3 separate regions of the Homo sapiens genome follow, and all the other regions are linked to region 1. Evidence: fine-mapped expression QTL. A gene starts in region 1. Each other region holds a variant in brackets. All regions are shown on one strand. Distances are between the middles of the regions.

Region 1 (8,183 bases):
CTCCCAGGTTGACTGCTCTGCATGTGCCCATGTGTAGTTAATTTTGTTTCTGACCACTTGTCCATTTATCAGAGTAATCTGAATGGTATTTACTTCATTTTTTGTTTCAGCAATTCCACTGAAGAAATTATGGGGCAACACAAGATCTCTTGATGATGCCTATATAAAATCATGAATTACCACAGATTTTACTCCAAACTAGTACTGATGCAATGCTATAGCCTACCGTAAACCTTCTAAGAAATTCAAGGCCTAGGGATGCTACCCTTTCAGACATGACATGTCAAACTGTATTTGCTTTCTCTAGGACGGGGAAGAGGGAGACAGAGTAGATGCCAAGAGGTTTCCATTATGGCTTCTTTCTGGCCTTTGAGAGTTTCCCTAGAAAGGGTCACCATAAGCCACTATCATTCTAACATCTAAAGCTTGCTCTTTCGACCAGAATTGATAGCAAATGGAAAGTAACAATTAGAATTTATAAGACTGGAAGAGAATAGGAGAGGGAAAAGAAAGCTATTAGAAGAGGAAGGGATCCTTTGGAAAGGTAGGAAAGAAGATGACCTTCACCCATCTGACTGTTTGCTCTAGCGCCACCTACAGCCACACCACCTGACCCTCAAAAATCACCGACCCCTGGCCAGACAACATTTTTTCCAGCTAACTGCAGGTGCCTGGCTTATTTGATTAAACCACCACATTATAAGGTCAAGGTCACATGCTTGATCCCTACGTTTGTCCTACGTTTGTCAATGGGCACAAGTTGCATGGTCAAAAACTTGCCTTTTAACTCCAACCTCTCATAAATACCATCACTTACGTTAAAGACATTCACAAGAGAGGATATGAACCAACAATGCAAATCCATCAGCATTACTAAAAGAAAAAAAAACAGGAAAACCTGACTTGTGAGTCAGCCCACAGAACAAATTCCATTTAAGAACTCCCTGATCATCCTGGGCTTCAAGGTTAGATACATAAGAGTAAGAAATCAGGCTTCCCTACTTACTCGTTTTATGTGTGACCTTGGACAAGTTAATTTTTCAGAGCTTTAACAATAAAACACATTAAGGGTCCCAAATAGAGCTTGACATATAAGGGATACTCAGGTTATGCTAGCCCCAGCCCCATCTGGAGATAGAATCGGGCAGTCAAGAGCACAGGGATGAAGCCAGGTCCACCTGTATCCCAATCTTGATTTTGCAGCTCACGTGAAACACTGGGCAAGTGATGGCCTTATCGTTCTCATAAAGCTGAGACAAAAAAATTAAAGCATTTAGACAGCACACAGCAATTGTCAACTAACGGCAATTATGTTTTAAATGTTAAGAAGAATATAGTATTATCACTATCTGTTAATGTTTTCCAAAGTACAGTCATGGAACTATTGATATCAGAATGACCTGGGTGGGATGTCTACTGAGGGGGAAGAAAAGGATATCATGTCCCATCTCAACCTATTTAAAAAAGCTCTCCAAAAATGGTACAGGGTAATGGTCATTTCTGAATCAAACTTCCTTGAGATATCTATGAAAATTTCAGAATTACTGACCCAGCAGGTCTTGTGCTGTGTCATAGTAAATTAAGACTTGTTTTCCAATCCTTATTCTTTACTATGCCAGAATTGCCCAGTATCTGGGGTTCTTTTCTAATGAGACACATTTCTGGACATAGATGTCAAACTGATAGGCTCATACTTTTTAGGATCACTCCTGTTTTTTCCCCCAATGGTACTATTTTGACTTTTTTTTTTTTCTTCTAACCAGGGGTCGGCAAGCTATGGCCTTGATCTGCAGCTAATTTTGTACAACCGCAACCCTCAGAAGGTGTATGTGTTTAAAAAAAAAAACTGAAGAAGAAGTGATCAAGACCACATGTTGCCCTAAGTCTAAAACACTTACTAACCGGCCCTTTACAAGAAACCTTGCCAATCACTTTGTAGCCTATAATTAAATGTTTTTCAACTGGAGGTCTCAATACAATTTAAAATAGGGAGAAATAACTGATTCAAATAGGAAATATCAAAAAGCACTGCATCTGACAGAAGGAAGTACCTGTACTATTGCCAAAGTTTCTGTTATACAGATGTATGTGCCTCCTGGATAATGATCAAATTGTATTTGGTTGCAGTCAAAAAGTTTTAAAGTCCTTGGGGGTGAGGCTAGGGAGTAAATAGTGCAATTGTTTAACAAGTTTAACTTGTTTAAGTCACACTGAGCAATTTTTACAGCAAAGGTGCCTTGGAGAATATAAAGCCATATAAAATGACCCCTGCTGTTCAGAAGTTAACGGCTTATTTCTTCACTACAAAATGAAAATGGAATCTTTTCTGTGCGCAATATATTGTTATAAGGAGAAAATGCAATCATCAATGCAAAGTACTTCAACAAATGCATTATACAAACAAAATATTTTGATTATATTAACAACATATCATACAGAATATATATATATATATGGTCTTTACCAAGCCCCTTAGTTCCTAGTTTTCTCCAACCTGGGAAAAGAGTCCTTTTTTTCCCCTTTGTGTGTGTGCACGAACATGTCAGGAGCATAAAAGAAGTATTAGATATCTCTGCCCTTTCTGTCATCCGTTACTGGCTGCTGCTTCTTACCTATTTAAAACATGCATTCTTTTCTCTTTCTCGTTTCTGGTAGGAAAAGCTTTTGATTCGATTCTTGTGCAAAAAGAATTATTAAGACTATGTTTATCCTCTTGGGGAAACATTTAGAAGTCCAAAATTAAAATTGTAAGTAACAAGCTTCACTTTTATCTTCACAGCGCACTAATTTCCAGGGTTTCTGGGATTCTTTTGGAGAAACTAAAAATACACTAATTTTATAATCCATTTCAACATGTAATCCTGCAAAGAAAAGAAACATCTTCCTAGGAGCATACACAAGGAAATGAAATGACACTTTTAAATGTTTTCATTTTATGAAATACACTGCGGACACACAAACCACAAGCAGTGTAAATAAATAAAAGCTGGTGCAATGCTGCATGCATGTTTGCCTTACACCACAAAGAGAAAACACTTGCACACTGCACTCCATGGTATTTTAGCTTGGGTTGCCATAAAAATGAGATTTGGGCATGTTGTGTAATACAAGGGGCTGTAAATGAGGGTGTGTGTCTGGGTGTGTTAGGGAAAGAGGGTTGTAAGCAGAAGGGGTGGGACTTGCCAGGAGCAGCTATTTGAGAAAATTCCTTTTTCTTTCCCATTCATTCTTTCTAGCTCTACTGTCTGGCACAATCCTTACAATTACTCACTGGCTTTTCATTCTAAAGACAACCAACAAGCTTTCAGAACTTCCTACAGTGTTTTTCTCATACACTTTTAAAAAAATAAAGCACCAAATCATTCAATATGTCTTTTATATAAAAAGCAAACCATTAACCCATTTCCTCGTTCCAAAGACCCCCGTGGGTTTCAGACTAAATAGAATCCTTTGTTACGTGTCCAAAAATAACACAACACGGTATTGGTAAATTGGAAAATAATAGATAACTCTTATTTCCAAGAATGTCAGAGCTACTGGCCATAAATTTTGTTCTGCCCCAGTGAGTCCAATTTCATGCTTCTTTTAGCGAATCTACCGTCCTAACAACAGTAAAGCCAATCATATTAAACACGGTTCTCCTTTTCTCTTTCGACATTCCATTAATAAATACAAGGGCTGAAAGAAGACGCCAAGCGGGCCAGTTTCTTTATGCACAATGGTATCCTCTAAGCGAAATACCTCCAACCACAGCGAAAGTTGTCTTTCTAGCAGATGCCCACCCCAACCGGCCCAGGCAGAGGGGGCAAAGGGTAAGAGGGAAGCGTAACATCCCAGCTCTCCCACCTCTAGAGGAAGGGAAGAGGGTATGACAGAGAGCGGAGTAGGAAGGTGGGCGAGTGGGAGAGACAGAAATGGATGCTGAGGGGGTGGGCGAGATGGGAAGGTAGGGAAAGGTGGAGAATGCGGGGAGAGGTGGGTGCGCAAAGCGGCAAGATCCGAGAGCACAGCGGGGAGCGGTGGGGGGCAGCGAGGGGATCCGGGGGCGCGAAGTGGGGGGTCTGGTCCTCACCATTGAACGCCCCTGCGTCCGCGGGCGCCGCCTCCTCCTCCTCCCCGTCCTCGGAGTCGGACTGCATGGGCTCCTCGGCGAAGTTGACCCCCTTGCTGGGGGTGCCGCCCCCGGCAGCGGCGCCCAGGTCCCCCCAGGTCCTGCCCTCATGGCCGAAGCGCGCGGTGCCTTTGCGCTCGTTCTCCTGCTGCAGGCGGGTGAAGTGCTGCAGCGCGAACTCCAGCAGGTCCGCGGGCTGGTGCCTCAGCACCTCCACCGTGAAGCCCTGCAGCAGCTCCGTCAGTCCCGCCGGGATCTCGATGCTCATCCTGCCTCCGGGGCGGCAGGCGCCTGGGCGCCGCCCTCGCCCCCTCCCCGGCACGGCCTAGGGCCCCGCGGCTGCCGAGCGAGCGCCTACGGCGCTGGCGCGCTACCGGCTGCGAGCGCGGCGCACTGGGCCCCGGCGGCCCGGCTGGCCCGGCCCGCGGCTCCCGGCGCGCGTCTGCTCCGTGTGGTGGCGGCGGCTGAGCGAGCGCGGCCCCGGGAGGGCTGGCAGCATCTCCTGCTCCTCCCGCTCCAGCCGCGGCCGCGCCTCTCCCCCGCCCGGGCGCCCCGCCCCCGCCCCGCCGCGGTGCGCGGGAGGGGGCGCAGGAGAGCGCGCCCACGTGACCCCCGGAAACCATGGCAACCTCCGCTGGCTGGCGCCGCGCACCCGCCTGTCAGACCACCGCAGGGCTGCGCGCCCGGGCCGGGAGAGGCGGAGGGAGGCCCAGCGAGGCCGCCTTCGTGTCCACCTGTCCGCGCGTCCAGGAGCGGGCTGGCCACTCGCCCCGCTTCCCAGGCGTCATTCGCCATGGTGAACCCCCGCAGAGGTGGTGCCAGGAGATTTGTCTTGAAACTTCAGCCTCCACCTTAGTAGTGGCATTTTATTTTCCTTCTAGAATCTAGTTGCATGATAAGTGTTGCTAATGTCCTTTGTTTAAAGTCTTATGGTGGTACTGGTTCTCTTTTGGACAAAGAAATGCTACCCCATCTTTGTGACGTCTTTCTTTTTCTTCCCCACATTTTATCCAGCCTTTCCCGATCCATCCTGTTTATTATGTTTCGTCTTACTGATGCTATTCCGTTGTGCACTCCACGCATTTACTATTTATTGAGACAAAGGCACCATTTATTGAGAGGCACCTATCAAAGTTAGTTGATCTCTTTTAAATAGGATAGTGCAGGATGAGGCGCTTATTATTTTGAAACTTTCCTTTATGCTTTGAATGATTTTTGACTTGTATGTCCAAAAATTGAAATACTTCAGTATAAAGAAAAATAGAATTACTAATGTGTGCTTTTAAAGTAGAAGGCTTTGACTTTGAAATGAGGCTTACTTTGCAAATGTTTACAATTTTGAAGTAGAGAAAATTGTCTTTTGTCAATTAAATTCTATTTAAGTACGCATACTTCATTTTCTACAATTATCATATCATTGTAAATAAAATATTTCAAGAGCAAGCTCACTTGGTTATTCTGATTTATCTTCCCACCCACGGAAGAGTAAACACATGACTGGGGAAACTCCAAGTCTAGAAATCAGAGATGTAACGAACTAGTCCCTCTTGTAAAAATGGATCTTGATGTTAACCCTTTGTTAATGATGCATCCTGTATTGACTCCATGAGCCAATGTATTTCTCTATTTTCATTTCTTAACAACTTTATAGTAATAATGTTACGTTGCTTTAAATATACAGTAGTTAAGTGCTTCTAATTGTGTCGAGCATTTTAAGAATTAAACTTTTGGCCGGGCGCAGTGGCTCACTCATGCCTGTAATCCCAACACTTTGAGAGGCCGAGGTGGGCGGATCACCTGAGGTCAGGAGTTCAAGACCAGCCTGGCCAACATGGTGAAACCCCATCTCTACTAAAAATACAAAAATTAGCGGGCATGGTGGCAGGCACCTGTAATCCCAGCTACTCAGGAGGCTTAGGCAGAAGAATCGCTTGAATCCAGGAGGCGGAGGTTGCAGTCAACCGAGATCGTGCAGTGCCGTTGCACTCCAGGCTGGGGGACAAGAGTGAGACTTCGTCTCAAAAAAAAAAAAAAAGAATTAAACTTTTATAAAATATGGTGAGCCTCACATGTCACCGGTTGGAGCACAATGTTAGTACTACTCTCTACCGTGTAAGCATTATTATTTTTACGGATCTGGTAATCTAAGATGCATGTGTATCACCTGTCTAAATTTGTGATAATATTTGTATTAATTATGATAAACACTGCTCACATGTGGCAGAAAATGCGAAATACAATAGCTTAAGATTTATTTCTCTGGAATCTAAATGTGGGCAGTTCAGAGTTGGTATTGAGAGGTGATAGCGTGCTGGCAGTCCTCACAGCCCGCACTCGCTCTTGGCGCCTCCTCTACCTGGGCTCCCACTTTGGCAGCGCTTGAGGAGCCCTTCAGCCTGCCGCTGCACTGTGGGAGCCCCTTTCTGGGCTGGCCAAGGCCTGAGCCAGCTCCCTCAGCTTGCGGGGAGGTGTGGAGGGAGAGGCGCGGACGGGAACTGGGGCTGCGCGTGGTGCTTGTGGGCCAGCGCGAGTTCCGGGTGGGCGTGGGCTCGGCAGACCCCGCACTCGGAGCGGCCGGCCGGACCCACCGGCCCCGGGCAGTCAGGGGCTTAGCACCTGGGCTAGCAGCTGCTGTGCTCAATTTCTCGCAGGCCTTAGCTGCCTTCCCGCGGGGCAGGGCTCGGGACCTGCAGCCCGCCATGCCTGAGCCTCCCCCCCACTCCGTGGGCTCCTGTGCGGCCCGAGCCTCCCCGACGACCGCCGCCCCCTGCTTCACGGCGCCCAGTCCCATCGACCACCCAAGGGCTGAGGAGCGCAGGCGCACAGCGCGGGACTGGCAGGCAGCTCCACCTGCAGCCCCAGTGCGGGATCCACTGGGTGAAGCCAGCTGGGCTCCTGAGTCTGGTGGGGACGTGGAGAACCTTTGTGTCTAGCTAAGGGATTGTAAATACACCAATCGGCACTATGTATCTAGCTCAAGGTTTGTAAACACACCAATCAGCACCCTGTGTCTAGCTCAGGGTTTGTGAATGCACTAATCGCCACTCTGTATCTAGCTATTCTGGTGGGGACGTGGAGATCCTTTGTGTGGACCCTCTGTATCTAGCTAATCTGGTGGGACATGGAGAACCTTTGTGTCTAGCTCAGGGATTGTAAACACACCAATCAGTGCCCTGTCAAAACAGACCACTGGGCTCTACCAATCAGCAGGATGTGTGTGGGGCCAGATAAGAGAATAAAAGGAGGCTGCCTGAGCCAGTGGTGGCAACCAGCTCGGGTCCCCTTCCACAGTGTGGAAGCTTTGTTCTTTTGCTCTTTGCAATAAATCTTGCTACTGCTCACTCTTTGCGTCCACACTGCCTTTATGAGCTGTAACACTCACCATGAAGGTCTGCAGCTTCACTCCTGAAGCCAGCGAGACCACGAGCCCACCGGGAGGAACTCCAGATGCGCCGCCTTAAGAGCTGTAACACTCACCGCGAAGGTCCGCAGCTTCACTCCTGAGCCAGTGAGACCACGAACCCACCAGAAGGAAGAAACTCCGAACACATCCGAACATCAGAAGGAACAAACTCTGGACACGCCACTTTTAAGAACCGTAACACTCACCGCGAGGGTCTGCGGCTTCATTCTTGAAGTCAGTGAGACCAAGAACCCACCAATTCCGGACACAGTGTGGTACTCCATGATCATCAGGGACCCAGGCTCCCTCCAGCTCATTGCTCTATGATCCTGTCTGTGGTCCAAAATGGCTGCTCCAGGGCCAGTCATATTTTAGCTAAGAGGAAAGTGAAAAAGAGAAGGGAAGCTCCCCTCCCCTCCCTTCCTTCTAGGAAGTTAAACACAATTCCTCTTCTATCCTCTTGGCTAGAACTTAGTCAACATGGCCACACCTTTGGTGTGGCAAATTGCATTTTCCAAAGACGGCTACAACAATATCTCCTACAGTGTGGCGTGGCCACTACTCACTAATGAATTGAAGTCTTATTTCCCCTCCCCTTGAATCTGAATGTGCTTGTGATTTCTTTGACCAATAGAACATTGTAAAAGTCAAGTCAGCATGATAGAAGAA
Region 2 (8,183 bases), 37 kb after region 1:
ACATAGATATGTGGTTGGAAAAAGAAGGACTGACCTGCAGACCCCATGAAAGTTCTCAGGAACTCATAAGGATAACTTGCCCACACTTTGAGAACTGCTGCTCTAAACTGTCTCTAATTACTGTATGATCTTTAATGCTTCAGTTTCTCTTTTTGTAAAAAATGGGCAAACAATAGTATATCAAAGTGTTCTGAAACTTTAACATGAAAAATGCTACAGTGATAGGCAGAAATCTACACCTGTACATAAAATAGGAAAACACTTCCTTTGGGGCATGTTGGAGACATGATGCTGCCCCCAACATGATTACTAAACAAATTGGTGGCCAGGCACCGTGGCTCATGCCTGTAATCCCAACATTCTGGGAGGCTGAGGAGGGAGGATCACTGGAGCTCAGGAGTCCAAGACCAGCCTGGGCAACATGATAAGATGTTGTCTCTTTAAAAACTAAAAAATAAAATTAGCCAGGCATATTGTGGACCCAGCTACTCAAGAGGCTGAGGCAGGAGAATGACTTGAGCCCAGGAGGTTAAGTCTGCAGTGAACTGTGACAGCACCACTGCACTCCAGCCTGGGCAAGAGAGCAAGATCCTGCCTCAAAACAAAAAACAAAAAACACAGTGGCTCACACCTGTAATCCCAGCACTTTGGGAGGCCAAGGCAGGAGGATCTCAAGGTCAGGAGTTTGAGACCAGTCTGGCCAATAGGGTGAAACCCCGTCTCTATAAAAATACAAAAATTAGCCGGGTGTGGTGTCGGGCACCTGTCGTCCCAGCTACTTGGGAGGCTGAGGCAGGAGAATCACTTGAACCTGGGAGGCGGAGGTTGCAATGAGCTGAGATAATGCCAGTGCACTCTAGCCTGGGTGACAGAGTGAGAATCCGTCTCAAAAACAAAAAACAAAAAAACAAAAAAACAAACAACAAACCATATTGGTTTACCAACATAGTTTATAAAGCAAGTTACTCTTTGCAATAGACATTTAGGTTTCACACATAACCACTGCAACACAAAATTGGGAATTTTCCAAATAAAATCAAGACAGTTCTTCATGTAGTTTTGGTAAAAATAATTTTTTTCAGGAGCATAAGGTATGAATTCTGGCTCAATTTCAAAATGGAGGCATATTTCTCTGAAACCCGCTGCCTAGTTATCTTGGCATTGTTTGCTGTGTAAAATGGACTCATGCTTCATTTCTTGGAAAATGTTGAATGTGTCTCGTTTTAACTTAATGAGGTCAGGGAGGAACTAATCACTAAGGGACTTTTTGTTTGTTTGTTTGTTTGTTTGAGATGGAGTCTCGCTCTGTTGCCCAGGCTGGAGTGCAGTGGCACGATCTCGGCTCACTGCAATCTCTGCCTCCCAGGTTCAAGCCATTCTCCTGCCTCAGCCTCCCGAGTAGCTGGGACTACAGGTGCCTGCCACCACGCCCGGCTAATTTTTTGTATTTTTAGTAGAGACGGGGTTTCACCGTGTTAGCCAGGATGGTCTCGATCTCCTGACCTTGTGATCCGCCCGCCTCGGCCTCCCAAAGAGCTGAGATTACAGGCGTGAGCCACCACGCCCGGCCCACTATGGGACATTTTTAAGTCAGAATATAAAGTTTCTCATGGTAGACCTCATAATGAAGTCTGTGTACCGCAACTGATCCACTATAAGATATGATGATTGTCATATAACATTCTCTACAGTGGTTTTGATTGTGTGCACTTGGAGTTGAGGTGTAAAACTGGAATGTTTGCATCCTTCATGGGACCTATTTCACAACAATGCACATTCTGCTTAATCAGATACAGTGACTCAGTCTGTAGAGGAGGGATTTGGGGGCAGGATGGCACAGAATCCTGTCTTTAATCCCCACCCAGAAGTCAGTAGCCTGTCCATCCTTATAAAAGCCTCATGGTGGACTCGGTGTGGTGCTCACGCCTGTAATCCCAGCACTTTGGGAGGCCGAGGTGGGCGGATTACTTGAGGCCAGCCTGACCAACATGGTGCAACTTTGTCACTACTAAAAATACAAAAATTAACTGGGCATCATGGCGCATGCCTGTAATCCCAGCTACTTGGGAGGTTGAGGCAGGAGAATCGCTTCAACCTGGGAGGTGGAGGTTGCAGTGAGCCAATATCATGCCACTGCACTCCAGCCTGGGCGACAAAGTGAGACTCTGTCTCAAAAAAAAAAAAAAAAAAAGCGTCATGCTGGTGACTCTTGTCTTTTTAGGGCCAACGGTATTTTTCTTCCATCTGCCCCAGATCCGGATTTTATCTCAACATGCATCCCGTGGTGTTGAAGAGTAGTTGCAGTCTGAATTTCAGAGAGACTGAGTTGTGTTTGCATTTGGAAAAGGGAGATAATGGTCAATAGGAATGGATGAGGACAAAATGAAAATGGATATGAAAGTGCTTTGAAAACACTTTATGCTTCATGTAAGTTAAAGAATTGTTTTTATTTTTATGCCTAAACCCTCCTTATTGTGAGGTATTGCGGCAAACAGGGACGCACCAGGCCTGGAGGTTTTTTGTTTTGTTTTGTTTTTCATTTGCTTCTATCGGTCTAGGGAAAAAGAACATGCTGGATCCTTCACAGATCTTCTTATGCTAATCCTCTCTGTGGAGTTCTTGGTGTTGACATTGGCTATAAAGCCAGTTGTTGATCCGCACCCCTTCTTTTGTCATAAATGAAAAGTACAATCTGGTACTGAACATTTTTATCTCCCTGTATAATCTGATGACTTGTTCTGCCAGGAAAAATTGATTGCAGCATTCATTATCAATGACTTTATTTTTCAAGTTTTTATACTTCTTTGATATCTAAAAGTAGCTAATAAAATCACCGAAGATACACTTGATGAGAATATATCAAACACTTTAGCATGCACATCCAACATTTTAAAAATCCTCTGTTAATTATTTTTTCAGTTTATAGTAATCAGGAGCTTGGCATTGAAATGATCTCTGAACTTAGAAATTGGTTCTTGAGTGAAACCTCAACTTCTTTGTGTTTAATTAGATTTCAGTTGCTCCACTTAAAAAAGGTCACCTAAATTTGGAAAAGACAACCAATTCTAATTGTGACAATCTAATGCCTGCTGAATTTTCTTAGAAAGGTTAAAGTCCTTTTTTCCATTCACTTGGTAGCATTTATCCAGGATTTTTTTTTTTTTTTTTTTTTTTTTTTTTTTTTTTTTTTTGAGATGGAGTCTCGCTCTGTCGCCCAGGCTGGAGTGCAGTGGCGCAGTCTTGGCGCAGTCTTGGCTCACTGCAAGCTCCGCCTCCTGGGTTCACGCCATTCTCCTGCCTAAGCCTCCGGAGTAGCTGGGACTACAGACGCCCGCCACCACGCTCGGCTAATTTTTTGTATTTTTAGTAGAGCCGGGGTTTCACCATGTTAGCCAGGATGGTCTCGATCTCCTGACCTCATGATCCACCCTCCTCGGCCTCCCAAAGTGTTGAGACTACCGGGATGAGCCACCGCGACCAGCCGCATTTACCCATACTTTCACCACAGCACACCAAAAAAAATCTTGAGTCCTCAAAAAAAAGGTAATTATATTTTAATGGATTAGGCTTTGATTCCTTCTCAGCGGCTTTATCAGCTTGCTGTGTGCAAATATTTCAGACTATGTGCACCTAGTTTTCTTTGTGGTAATAATAAAACTGTGTTTCCCACGGGTCTATTAGAGGTGCTGTAGATTGAATAAGAAAATGTCTATAAAGGACCAGGCGCAGTGGCTCATGCTTGTAATCCCAGCACTTTGGGAGGCCGAGGTGGGTGGATCACCTGAGGTCAGGAGTTCGAGACCAGCCTGACCAACATGGTGAAACCCAATCTCTACTAAAAATACAAAAATTAGCCAGGCATGGTGGCACACACCTGTGGTCCCAGCTACTAGGGAGGCTGAGGCAGAAGAATCACTTGAACTCAGGAGGCAGAGGTTGCAGTGAGCTGAGATCCCACCTCTGCACTCCAGCCTGGGTAAGAAAGCAAAACTCCATCTCAGAAAAAAAAAAAAAAAAAAAAAAAAGAAAGAAAATGTCTATAAAGCTCTTAGAGTGGCCGGGCACTGTGGCTTACGCCTGTAATACCAGCACTTTGGGAGGCCAAGCCAGGCGCATTACCTGAGGTCAGGAGTTCGAGACCAGCCTGGCCAACATGGTGAAACCCCGTCGCTACTAAAAATACAAAAAAATTAACCGGGCCTAGTGGTGCACACCTGTAATCCCAGCTACTTGGGAGGCTGAGGCAGGAGAATCACTTGAACCGGGGAAGCGGAGCTTGCAGTGAGCCGAGATTGCACTATTGCACTCCAGCCTGGGTGACAAAAGGGAAACTCTGTCTAAAATTAAAAAAAAAAAAAGTTTTTAGAGTATCTAGAGATAGCTGGGTCATACGTGAAAGTGTGTGTTTCTAGAGAGCCAAGGTAGAATAAGATGGGTGACTCAAGGAGAGAGCTCAATAGGAGTCAAGGCAGGGGAACTTGAAAGGAGCCCTGAGAAATGTGGGCTGGAGTTGCATGGGCTTCCTGAGCTGCCATGCTTCCCGTGACAGTATAAAGCTGTCAGGCTGCATAGTATTCATAGCATTCCTTGGTTCCCATGGAAAATGGAGGCCAGTTCTAGATTATGGCTGAGAACTAGATAAAAGGTTCCAGATGTTCTGTGAACCATGTCAACTTAGTTTACATACAGATATTGAGCAAAATGAGAAAAATATTTTAGCTAAAGATTATAACCCAGAACATCTCATATGGACCATGATTCAAACACAAACTGAATTCCCTTTTTATTTTTATTTTTTTGACTCCCAACAATGTATAAGTAGCCAGGTATTTTTTTTTAAAAGCAAGTATCACCTTCATTTTTGTGGCCTTTCTCACATAGCTGCATGGAAATTTCAACTATGATGGAACTATTGCAATACTGTTTTTCCTTACTGCTGGAAGTATCACTGAATGAGTTTTGCATTACAGTAAAATAACACCCTGAGCTGTCATGTTCCCATAGTTGTCTCTGAAAGTAAAAGCTGTGATCACATCCAAGTTTAGAAGTAGGGGAAGAGGGACCGAGATAGGGAAGGCTATCGAAGCTGCCACTGTTGTAACTGCTGCTGCAGTCACACTGATAAAGACAAGGGGAAGCAGGCCAGCCT[G/T]AGATTCTGGGCCTTAAAGCCCTGGCTCTACCAGCAGGAGAGAAAAATAGCAGCTCTGAAGGATTTATCAGAAAACTTTTTTAAGAACAATGTTATGGAAGATGAACTGGTCTCGTATCTCCAGCGTTTCTGGCAAAAACAGCTTCCACTCTTACCTCAGGTAGAATGACCACACTAAGAATTTAAGACATCTCATAGGGATATCTGTCCAAAGCCTCTACGATGTGAGTCATTGTCAGAATTTTTAGGAAAAGACAGTTGACTGAATAATGAACTTTCAGGAAGGCATTTACTAACCTTCAGTTATGGGGGACTTGCAGAAAATGACCTTTTATCTCCACATCTAGCTAACACACTAATTCCTTTGAAGGACTCATTATAGAATGCTTTTCTGTTCACGGTGAGGACATTTTCAGGGCTGAGGGACCTAGCTACAACACATGGCTCAAGAGAAGCTAGCTAGTGATTTTTCCCTCTTATGTTTTCTCCTTACTCAATAGTCCTTATTCTCTTTTTTAAACTGTTGTCAAGAAATAATTTAATCAACTCGTTTCTCCAAAGAAGCAGAAAAAGCAAATAACGAAAAAGGTTCCATGTGTTTTCTTTCTCAGGGGTATTTTCATTAGGGAACTAAGGAATGAAACACTGCATACAGAATTGCAAGCATCAGCTAGCCCAGTGGGGAGGTATTTGGGCAGCAAGCCAAACGTCGCCCATTCTACATAATTGTCCCTCTCCTTTTTATTTTTTATTTTTATTTATTTATTTTTTGAGGCGGAGTCTCACTCTGTCGCCCAGGCTTGGCTCACTGCAAGCTCCGCCTCCCAGGTTCACGCCATTCTCCTGCCTCAGCCTCCCGAGTAGCTGGGACTGCAGGCACCAGCCACCATGCCCGGCTAATTTTTTTAAAAAATATTTTTAGTAGAGATGGGGTTTCACCGCGTTAGCCAGGATGGTCTCGATCTCCTGACCTCGTGATCCACCCACCTCAGCCTCCCAAAGTGCTGGGATTACAGGCGTGAGCCACCGCGCCCGGCCGTCCCTCTCCCTCATAACATGGTAGACCTGAAGGGTTCCTGCTAACACGGTAGACATCTCTCTTACAGCCACTTCAGAAATCACAGCTGGGGGCGGGTGCAGTGGCTAACACCTGTAATCCCAGCACTTTGGGAGGTCGAGGTGGGTGGACCTCGAGGTCAGGAGTTCAAGACCAGCCTGGCCAAGATGGTGAAACCCCATCTCCACTAAAAATACAAAAAATTAGCTGGGCGTGGTGGCAGGCGCCTGTAGTCCCAGCTACTCGGGAGGCTGAGGCAGGAGAATGGCGTGAACCCGGGAGGTGGAGCTTGCAGTGAGCTGAGATAGTGCCACTGCACTCCAGCCTGGGCGACAGAGCGAGACTCCGTCTCAAAAAAAAAAAAAAAAAAAAAAAAAAGATTTGGGGCCAATGTAACTTTACAGCAATTATACAACAGTTCCCAAGCTGAAGCCTACCTTTGGACAGGGTGGAGGCATCATACCTGGGAGAGAGGTCCTTGCCAAAGAGGGTCTCTGCCTTTCCTCAGGATGATTGCTATAAAGAAAGCAAATGGGCTGGGTGCGGTGGCTTATGCCTGTAATCCCAGCACTTTGTGAGGCGGAGGTGGGTGGATCACTTGAGGTCAGGAGTTCGAGACCAGCCTGGTCAACATGGCGAAACCCCGTCTCTACTAAAAATGCAAAAATTAGCCAGGTGTGGTGGTGCATGCCTGTAGTCCCAGCTACTTGGGAGGCTGAGGCATGATAATCGCTTGAACCCGGGAGGCAGAGGTTGCAGTGACCCGAGATAGCGCCACTCTACTCCAACCTAGGGGACAGAGCAAGACTCTATCTCAAAGAAAAAGGAAAGCAAATAGAAAAATTGTATTACATAAATTACAGTAAGGAATACCAATGCAACATTAAATATGAAACTGCCCTCCTTCCATTATTTATTCGGAAAATGCAAGACTTTCTTCATAGTAATGTCCCCCCTAATTGTATATCATGGACTAATTTGTCTTACTTTGCATCCTTGTGAAGCTTGTCAACTAACATCAGAGGGAGCCCCCCAAAAGGAGTGTGCAGATTGCATGGAGTCGTTGTATCAAAATCTCTGCACACCGTTTCTCTATTTCCCTGACAAACCTAACAATCAAGGACACCTGTTCTTTCTAATGTTATAATCCTACCCCGTAACTGACACTGTGGATGCTTCAGGTTGAAAAATTAGAAGTCACATTGTTTTTGAGGGAATATGGTTTACAATAAATGCCATTACAGACATTTGAATAAAATGTTTTTGGAACGGAAAGAAGGAAATAATCAACTCTAAGGGGAAGGAAATTATATTGACAGTAACAATAATAATGGTAGCTACTATTTATTCAGCTATTCAGTTAGGCCTCAAATGTACACTAGTCCTTCATTTTGAGACAGAAATGTTCTGTTTCAAATGGGGGAGGAGAGTAGGAGACAATTCTCTGCCAATGTTGCTGTTGATTGAATAATGAACTTTCAGGAAGGCATTTATTAACCTTTTTGTCTCACCTGCTTCACCTGTATAATGCGGGTGATATTAGTGTATCACAAGTTTCATAGGAAAACTTCAAATAAAAACAAATGCATAGAAGCACTAATCTGTTTCCTGATAAATAGTAGTGAGCATCAGTAAAGGTATTGCTCTGTGTGTTGACATTGCCAATATGTCTTGGCATTGGTTATGGGTGTTGAAATACGTTACATAAGCTTTTTTGGAGGTGAATTTTGGCTTTTTGAAATACTGGCACATTTTTAGTAACTTAGAATTGAAAAGGTTCAAATACACTTTTTTTTTTAACAGATGCAGAAATAGAGGGTTAAACAGAGAAAATGACTTGCACAAGGTGATATTGCTGGAAAAAAAGTGGACCCAAAGTATGAGTTTGGATCTGTCTAATATCAAAATCCGTGTTCTTTCTACTGTCACATCGCATCTCACCAACAATGCTGTTTTTTTGTTTGTGTGTGTGTGTGT
Region 3 (8,183 bases), 70 kb after region 1:
AAAGGATATAAACAAGATAAGTTCACGGAAGCATGGCAAGGCTCCCCGTTGCCTCCCTTTTATTTTAGGGAGGCCTTTCTGGAGTTCCATGACCTTGCTAGCCCTGCAAAGATGCCTTTTATGCTCCAAATCAGAAAAAAACATACACTAGCATACAAGGCTATGATTTTACTACCCAGAAAGCTACATCTCTCAGACCTGCCTGGGTTTACAGCCTGGAAATTCTTATTGCATCGGCTCTGGGAAAAAAATCTCACTTATCTAAGCTGATGCTTCTGGGGTGAGTTTTCCATTCACGTCCACTAGGGACAATGGCCCACTATGCATTCAGATCTTTCCAGGGGTCAGACACACTTCCGTCAGTAATGGCTGCCCATTCTGGTGGTGACTTCACACAGCAAAGGGAAAGACAAGAGTAACAGCAATTCTGGAGAAAAGAAGCTTCTAATACACTCCACAAAGGAGGGAGGGCTCCAGGCCGTGTTCCCTTTAAAATATATATTTTTGGTGCTAATGAAAAATAACAAAATAAACTGGCACAACAGGTGACTTTATATAGCTTAAACTAATTTCCAATTGCTATGAGGTGTACTAAAGGTCGTAGTAAGGATATCTATAATGTATTCTCTTTAATTTTATGTATGTTAATTACAAATGCCTGGATTTCCAACATTGAGGAATATAGGTTGCCTTTAAAATTGTGATTTTTCGTAGCTGTTTTGGTTTTCATGTTGATAAACTTTTAAAAATGCCATCAGCAGTCTAAGACATGACTTTCTGTACTCGGAGGCTAAAGACGTGGTGACAGTTTTTCTGCTTTCTAACTCCCCCTATCTTTTTGGAACAGGCTGTGACTGTGGGCGGACTATTCTGATACCATTGCTTTGGCTGTGCGGTATTTTGCAGCTTAAAAGTAAAAGTTCTCTCTGTTATCATTGAACATGCATCCTTGCTAAACACACAATGGATGTTCTGTAGATATAAATGAGTTCCTTCAATTCTGATGTTTCAGTTCAATGGCTCTCAAATTTCAGCATGCATTTACATCACCTGGGAAGAGTTCTAAAATGCACACATCTAGTGTTACCTACAGAGTATATGATTCAGCAGGCTGGGTTGGGTATCAAGGATCTGCATTAATCTGTGGCCTGAGGACTGCATTCTGAAGACAAATCATTACCTTAGGGCAGAGTTTCTCAACCTCAGCACTATTGCCATTATGGTTGGATGATATTTGTTGTGAGGGCTGTTGTCTGCATTGCAGGATGTTTAACAGCACCCGTAGCCTCTCCCCACGAGATGCCACTAACATTTTAATCCTCCTCCCACTTGTGACAACCAAAAATGTCTCCTGGAGTGGTGGATTTGAGAACCAATGCCTTAGAATCTTTGTCCTTCCCAACTCAAATGTCCTGGCCACCTGAGCATTCTTGTGACGAATTTGTGTATGGGGCTCTTGTCCCAAACATATTTTTCTTTTCTTTCTTTCTTTTTTTTTGAGACAAAGTCTTGCTCTGTTGACCAGACTGGAGGGCAGTGGTGCGATCTCGGCTTACCACAACCTCTACCTCCTGGGTTCAAGCGATTCTTCTGCCTCAGTCTCCCAAGTAGCTGGGACTACAGGTGCATACCACTGCACCTGGCTAATTTTTGTATTTGTAGTAGAGATGGGGTTTCACTATGTTGGCCAGGCTGGTCTCGAACTCCTGACCTTGTGATCCACCCACCTCAGCCTCTCAAAGTGCTGGGATTACAGGCGTGAGCCACCACACCCAGACTCCAAACTTAGTTTTCTTAGGAAGCTGTATGATAAAATGAGGGTTTTCTTAGTCACTTAGAGCTTAAACTAAGGGCACATGACCATTACCAACCCCCCAGACAACTTTTATTTGACCAGAACAGATTTGGTTCATTATTAAAATGAGTTACTAACATTTGCAACTTGAGATATATCCATTTTTAAAATTTTCTTGAAAATTCAGGAGATCTGATCACACGGGCCCACACTCCTATGAATAGATTCTGGGCGTGGTGTCTCGTGCATGTAACCCCAGCACTTTGGGAGGCCAAGGTGGGTGGATCACTTGAGTCCAGGAGTTCAAGACCAGCCTGGGCAACATAGTGAAAGCTCATCTCTACAAAAAATAAAATTTAGTCGGGCATGGTGGCTCATGCCTGTAGTTGCAGCTACTTCGGAGGCTGGGGTGGGGGGATGGCTTGATCATCCCATTGTGTTCTGGCCTGGGCAACAGCGTGAGAAGCTGTCTCAAAAAAAAAAAAAAAAAAAATCAGACGGACTGGACTAGGGGAAGAGCTGCACCTAGAGAGCCAGATGTGCTCTCCAGTTGCCCAAGTCCCCACGTGTCCGACCTCACTCATGTACAGTACCTGTCTGGCTCCTAAGGGCACTGGATTTACAATTCTTGGTTTAAAGTTTCATAGCCACTAGCTAAGAATGCAGCATTCCTTATGGAACAATTCTACTAGGGTTGGCAATGTTGGTGCTAACTCTTGAATGTATTCAAAGATTACTTTGATTGCAAGGCAATGGGCCAAGTGTTTTAATCTCCTATGATCACGATATCTTCTCATTTTATGATACATTTATGTGGAGTTTTATGTGTTTTCCCTTTCTGGAGCAAAACTTGGATCATAGGCACTCAGCCTCCTTTGCACATTCCACGAATGCTTTTGTTGTTTAGGAACACAACTCGGTGTGTCTGTTGAGAATTCTCTCTCAAGTGTTAGTTCTTGATCTGGCTAATGGATCATTTCTAGGAAACAGAGAAACAAAGGAAAAATAGGTGTGTGATGCACTCCCAGCCACACTGTCTCTCATCCCACCTGAAATAACAATGTCATATGTAATGATTAGAGACTGAGAGTTGCATGGAGGAAATGTCATGGTGGGGAGGGCTGGCTTCTTGGGCATGCAGCCTATGCCTGTGAAGGTCCTGGGCTTGGTTTAACGCTCTGTTGCTGCCATCTTGAAATTCTTAAGAATTTTTGAACTGTAAGTCCTGCAATTTCATTTTGCACTGAGATCCACAAATTATGTGGTTAGGCCTGTCTAAAAGAGGGATTTAAAACTTTATTATCGTGGGAGGTGAAGAGTGTTCAAAAATGTTAGTTCAGGAATTTCATTACTGTAAAGAGAAACAGCATCCTTTTCCCTTTCTGAGATAGGGATTCCACTTATTCAGAAAATTAACAAACAAATTCTGAAAACCGCTGTGTGTGAATTGCTAGGAGGCAAGAAAATACAGATAATAAGGAGGGCAGTATGGTGTTGTGGAGGCAGGTATGAATGGATTTTAATGAACTTAGACAAATCACACAATTTCTCCTCTTATTTATGCCTCTGTTTCTTGTGCCATCAATTTTCAGCATTACCTATTAAGTCTCAGCTTAATAAAAAGATGTTGGTGCTCCCATTTTTTTTAAGCTTTCCTCCTCCTTCCATGGCCCTTTTTTTTCCTTACCTGTAAGAAAAAAAGGCCTCCTTCTATGGCCTTAGTTTCTTACCTGTAAAGTGAGGATAATAGTTCTGACATTAAGAAGTTTTAGGATTTTTTTTTTTTTTTTGAGACGGAGTCTCGCTCTGTCACCCAAGATAGTTGTGAGAGCCTAGTGCAGTGTCTGACACATAGTTGGCCCTCACTATATGGCAGTTCTATTAATATTAATATGGGCCTTTGCTCTCAAGGAGTCTAGAATCTAGAAGGGGAGATAGATATATTAAATCATGGCAGTAGAACCTGGTGCATTAGTTGGCTCAGGCCACCATAACAAAATATCATAGACTGGGTATTTCTTAAACAGTAGAAATTAATTTTCTCAGAGTTTTGAGAAGTCTGAGATCACAGTGCCAGCATTGTCAGGTTCTGGTGAGGGCTCTCTTTCTGGCTGGCAGACACCCACCATCTCGCTGTGTCCTCACATGGTAGAGAGACAGTTCTGGTGTCTCTTCCTCTTCTTATAAGGGCACCAGTTCTAACAGATCAGGGCTCTACCCTTATGCCCTCATTTAACCTTAATCCACCCCCAACTCCCCGAAGGCTATCTCCAATACAGTCGCATGGAAGTGAGTATTAGAGCTTCAACATATGAATCTGGGCATGGGGTGAGTGGGACAAAATTCAGTCCATAGCATCTGATATAAGTACAACTAGGGCATAAATGAAAGTGCCCTGCTCAGCCAGGCATGGTGACTTACGCCTGTAATCCCAGCACTTTGGGAGGCCGAGGTGGGCGGATCACCTGAGGTGAGGAGTTCATGACCAGCCTGGCCAACATGGTGAAACCCCATCTCTACTAAAAATACAAAAATTAGCCGGGCGCCATGGTGGGCGTCTGTAGTCCCAGCTACTCGGGAGGCTGAGGCAGGAGAACCACTTGAGCTCGTGAGGCGGAGGTTGAGAGATGGTGCCACTGCACTCCAGCCTGGGCAACAGAGCGAGACTCTGTCTCCAAAATAAATAAATAAATAAATAAAT[A/T]AATTAATTAATTAATTTAAAAAAGCAAGTGCCCTGTGCTGCTGGTGGGAGCAGGGGAGGGGACATCAGAGAAGGTTTTACAGAAGAGATGATTTCTGAAATACATCTTACAATTTTTTAGTCAAAAAAGTATATATTCAAGAAAACAAATCAAAGAACATAGAGGAGTTTTTAATTAAAAATAATAGGCAGGGCGCAATGGCTCATGCCTGTAATCCCAGCACTTTGGGAGTCCGAGGTGGGCGGATCACCTGAGGTCAGGAGTTTGAGACCAGCCTGGCCAACATGGTGAAACCCCATCTTTACTAAAAATACAAAAAAATTATCTGGACGTGGTAGCACGTGCCTGTAATCCCAGCTACTTGAGGCACGAGAATTGCTTGAACTCAGGAGGCGGAGTTTGCAGTGAACCGAGATCGTGCCACTGCACTCCAGCCTGGGCAACAGAGTGAGACTCTGTCTCAAAAAAAAAAAAAAAAAAAAAAAAAAAAATTCTTCCCACCTCTGTCTAGCCTCAGATCTATTTTCCACAGTCAATGGTATGGACCAAATATTTGTATTCTTCCAAAATTCCTATGTTGAAACCCTAATCCCCAGTGGGATGCTGTTTGGAGATGGGGCCTTTGGGAGGTGATTAATTTGTGGGGGTGGAGCTCTCATGATGGGATTCATGCTCTTACAAGAAGAGACATGAGACAGCTTGCTTTCCCTCTCTTTCCCTTCGCCATGATTAGATGGCCCTCTTCAAATCCAGAAGAAGGATGTCATCAGATATGGGATCTACGAGCACCTTGATCTTGTACTTCCCAGCCTCCAAAACTGTTGAGAGATAAATGTTTGTTGTTTAAGGCACCCAGTCTATGGTAGCTGGTTATAGCAGCCTGAACTGCCTAAATCAACATTCAAAAAAGATTTCTGTTGTAACTGTTCTCATATTTGACGTTCTCCTTTACTCCTTTCAATGCTGGATGTCTATCTTGTGCCATATTTTTCTTTCAGCTTTTCCATTGATTACCTTTGTGAGTATGAATTATTTATGCCTCTATTTCTTGTGCCATCAACTCTAAGCACTTTCTATTGAGTCTTAGCTTAATAAAAAGATGTTGGTGCCCCCGTTCTTTTTTCTAGCTTTCCTCCTTCTTCCATGGCACCCCCCCTTTTTTTTGTCAATTACCTTTTTGCATGATCAAGATTACCTATTTGTATTCTGCTCTGCTACCACAGTCCAGTCTTCCTTGCAAGTCAAAAAAGCAGCTTTTGTGTTATTAGTCCTGTGCAAATGCTGGCTCAAGTTACATGCTAGAAACACTTTACTTCTTTACTGGTCCAAATGATACATTCAGGATCAGTAGGACAATTTCTTTTCCTCAAGGTCAAATGAATTTTCTCTTCTTACAATTAAAAAATGTCTTAAAACAATTATGCATTTGAGCTGGCTACATATTTAGATTTCTTTTTCTTGTCGAGTTTTATTTTAAAATTTCTAAATGTACTCCTCTCTGTTTTCTTCTTAAAGCCCTGGCTTCAACAAATCCTTTCCATCATATCATCTGTTAAGATTATTTCATCTTTTCCATCAGTATCACCTTTTTAGGCCAGGCGGGGTGGCTCACGCCTGTAATCTCAACCCTTTGGGAGGCCATGGCAGGCAGATCACTTGAGGCCAGGAATTTGAGACCAGCCCGGCCAACATGGTGAAACCCTGTTTCTACTAAAAGTACAAAAAATTAGCCAGGCGTGGTGGTGTACACCTGTAATCCCAGCTCCTCAGGAGGCTGAGGCATGAGAACTGCTTGAACTCAGGAGGCAGACTGCAGTGAGCCAAGATTGTGCCACTGCATTCCAGCCTGGGCGACACAGCAAGACTTTCTCTAAAACAAAAAACAAAAAACAAAAACAAAAAAACACTAGATAAAATTTGGATTGCAGAGGGAAGAAAAAGGCAGAGAGACAGAGACAGGACTAGCTGGATTTCCTAGGCCGACTAAGAATTCCTAAGCCTAGCTGGGGAAGGTGACCACACCCACCTTTAAACAAGCGGCTTGTAACTCAGCTCACACCTGACCAATCAGGTAGTAAAGAGGGCTCACTAAATTACAAATTAGGCTAAAAGCAGGAGGTAAAGAAATAGTCAAATTATATATTGCCTGCGAACACAGGGGGCAGGACAATGATTGAGATATAAACCCCAGGCATTCGAGCGGGGAGTGGGCAGCCCCCTTTGGGTCCCCTCCCGTTGCATGGGAGCTCTGTTTTCTCTCTATTAAATCTTGCAACTGTACACTCTTCTGGTCCATGTTTGTTCCAGCTCAAGCTGAGCTTTTGCTTGCAATCTACCACTGCTGATCCCTGCGGTTGCAGACCCGCCACTGACTTTCACCCCTCCGGATCCGGCCAGGTGTCTGCTGCGCTCCTGATCCAGCCAGGCGCCCATTGCTGCTCCAGATCGGGCTAAAGGCTTGCCATTGTTCCTACATAAGTGCTGGGGTTCGACCTAATCGAGCCGAACACTAGTCGCTGGGTTCCACCATTCTCTTCCGTGACCCATGACTTCTAATAGAGCTGTAACACTCACTGCATGGCCCAAGGTTCCATTCCTTAGAATCCGTGAGGCCAAGAAACCCAGGTCGGAGAACAAAAGGCTTGCCGCCATCTTGGGAGCCACTCGCCACCAACTTGGGAGCTCCAAGAACAAAGACCCCCGGTAACAAGACCACTTGGAGACAGGAATAAAGAAAACATCATGGCTTGAACTGCCTCCCAGGTTCAGGTGATTTTCCCACCTCAGCCTCCCGAGAAGCTGGGATTACAGGCATATGCCAACACACCTGGCTAATTTTTGTAATTTTGGTAGAGATGAGGTTTCACTATGTTGGCCCAGTTGGTCTCAAACTCCTGACCTCAAGTGATCTGCTCCCTCGGCCTCCCAAAATGCTGAGATTACAGGCGTGAGCCACTGCTACCAGCCTATGTAGTTTTTTTTTTTTTTTTTTTTTTTTTTTGAGACAGAGGCTTGCTCTGTCGCCCAGGCTGGAGTACAGTGGCACCATCTCGGCTCACTGCAAGCTCTGCCTCCCAGGTTCATGCCATTCTCCTGCCTCAGTCTGCCAAGAAGCTGGGACTACAGGCGGCTGCCACCATGCCTGGCTAATTTTTTTGTATTTTTAGTAGAGACGGGGTTTCACTGTGTTAGCCAGGATGGTCTCGATCTTCTGATCTCATGGTCCACCCACCTCAGCCTCCCAAAGCGCTGGGATTACAGGTCTGAGCCACGGCACCTGGCCCAGCCTATGTAGTCTTTAGAGTGGAAAAACTAACTCTGCAATCATGCAGACATATCCTTTGGCTAAATATCTCACCCTTTTAATTTTATAGTCTCTGTTACTGCTTCCAAAGTGGGTGACTTATTCCTATCTGAGTAGAACTGAATAGAAGAATAAAAAGACCCTAGGGGTGCAAGTGGGAAAAAAAATAGTCTTTCCAACTCTATTTAGCTTTAAATCTATAAATCTATTTTACACCTAGGGGTGTAAAGAGGGAGAGAAACACACAGGAAACATATGATTAATGTTTCAAGATATAATCCCACCACAACTGGTGGAATATTATTTTTCCTTAGACTTTTGAAAGTAGAAGTCCAATTTTTTTTAGCACCCACTGTTAACCAATGAGAAATCAGATGCCGGT

The links. PIP is the estimated chance that this variant, and not a neighbour inherited with it, causes the effect.
Region 2: its variant is fine-mapped to the expression of PRKAR2B in whole blood (TOPMed, PIP 0.95).
Region 3: its variant is fine-mapped to the expression of PRKAR2B in whole blood (INTERVAL, PIP above 0.99).

Annotation. Positions count from the first base shown.
Region 1 is chr7:107,041,104-107,049,286 of GRCh38, reverse strand. PRKAR2B (protein kinase cAMP-dependent type II regulatory subunit beta) reads right to left here and starts at 4,582. Exons shown (of 11, transcript NM_002736.3): 1 at 4,073-4,582. The coding sequence starts at 4,379. RefSeq lists silencers at 4,189-4,483, 4,270-4,829.
Region 2 is chr7:107,004,451-107,012,633 of GRCh38, reverse strand. No RefSeq gene overlaps it. Among named protein-coding and RNA genes, the nearest start is that of PRKAR2B, 36 kb to the left of the region's middle. RefSeq lists cis regulatory regions at 2,251-2,374, 2,107-2,575, 4,860-5,626. The variant G/T (reference allele first, on the strand shown) is at 5,150.
Region 3 is chr7:106,971,444-106,979,626 of GRCh38, reverse strand. No RefSeq gene overlaps it. Among named protein-coding and RNA genes, the nearest start is that of PRKAR2B, 69 kb to the left of the region's middle. RefSeq lists cis regulatory regions at 157-470, 642-1,313. The variant A/T (reference allele first, on the strand shown) is at 4,497.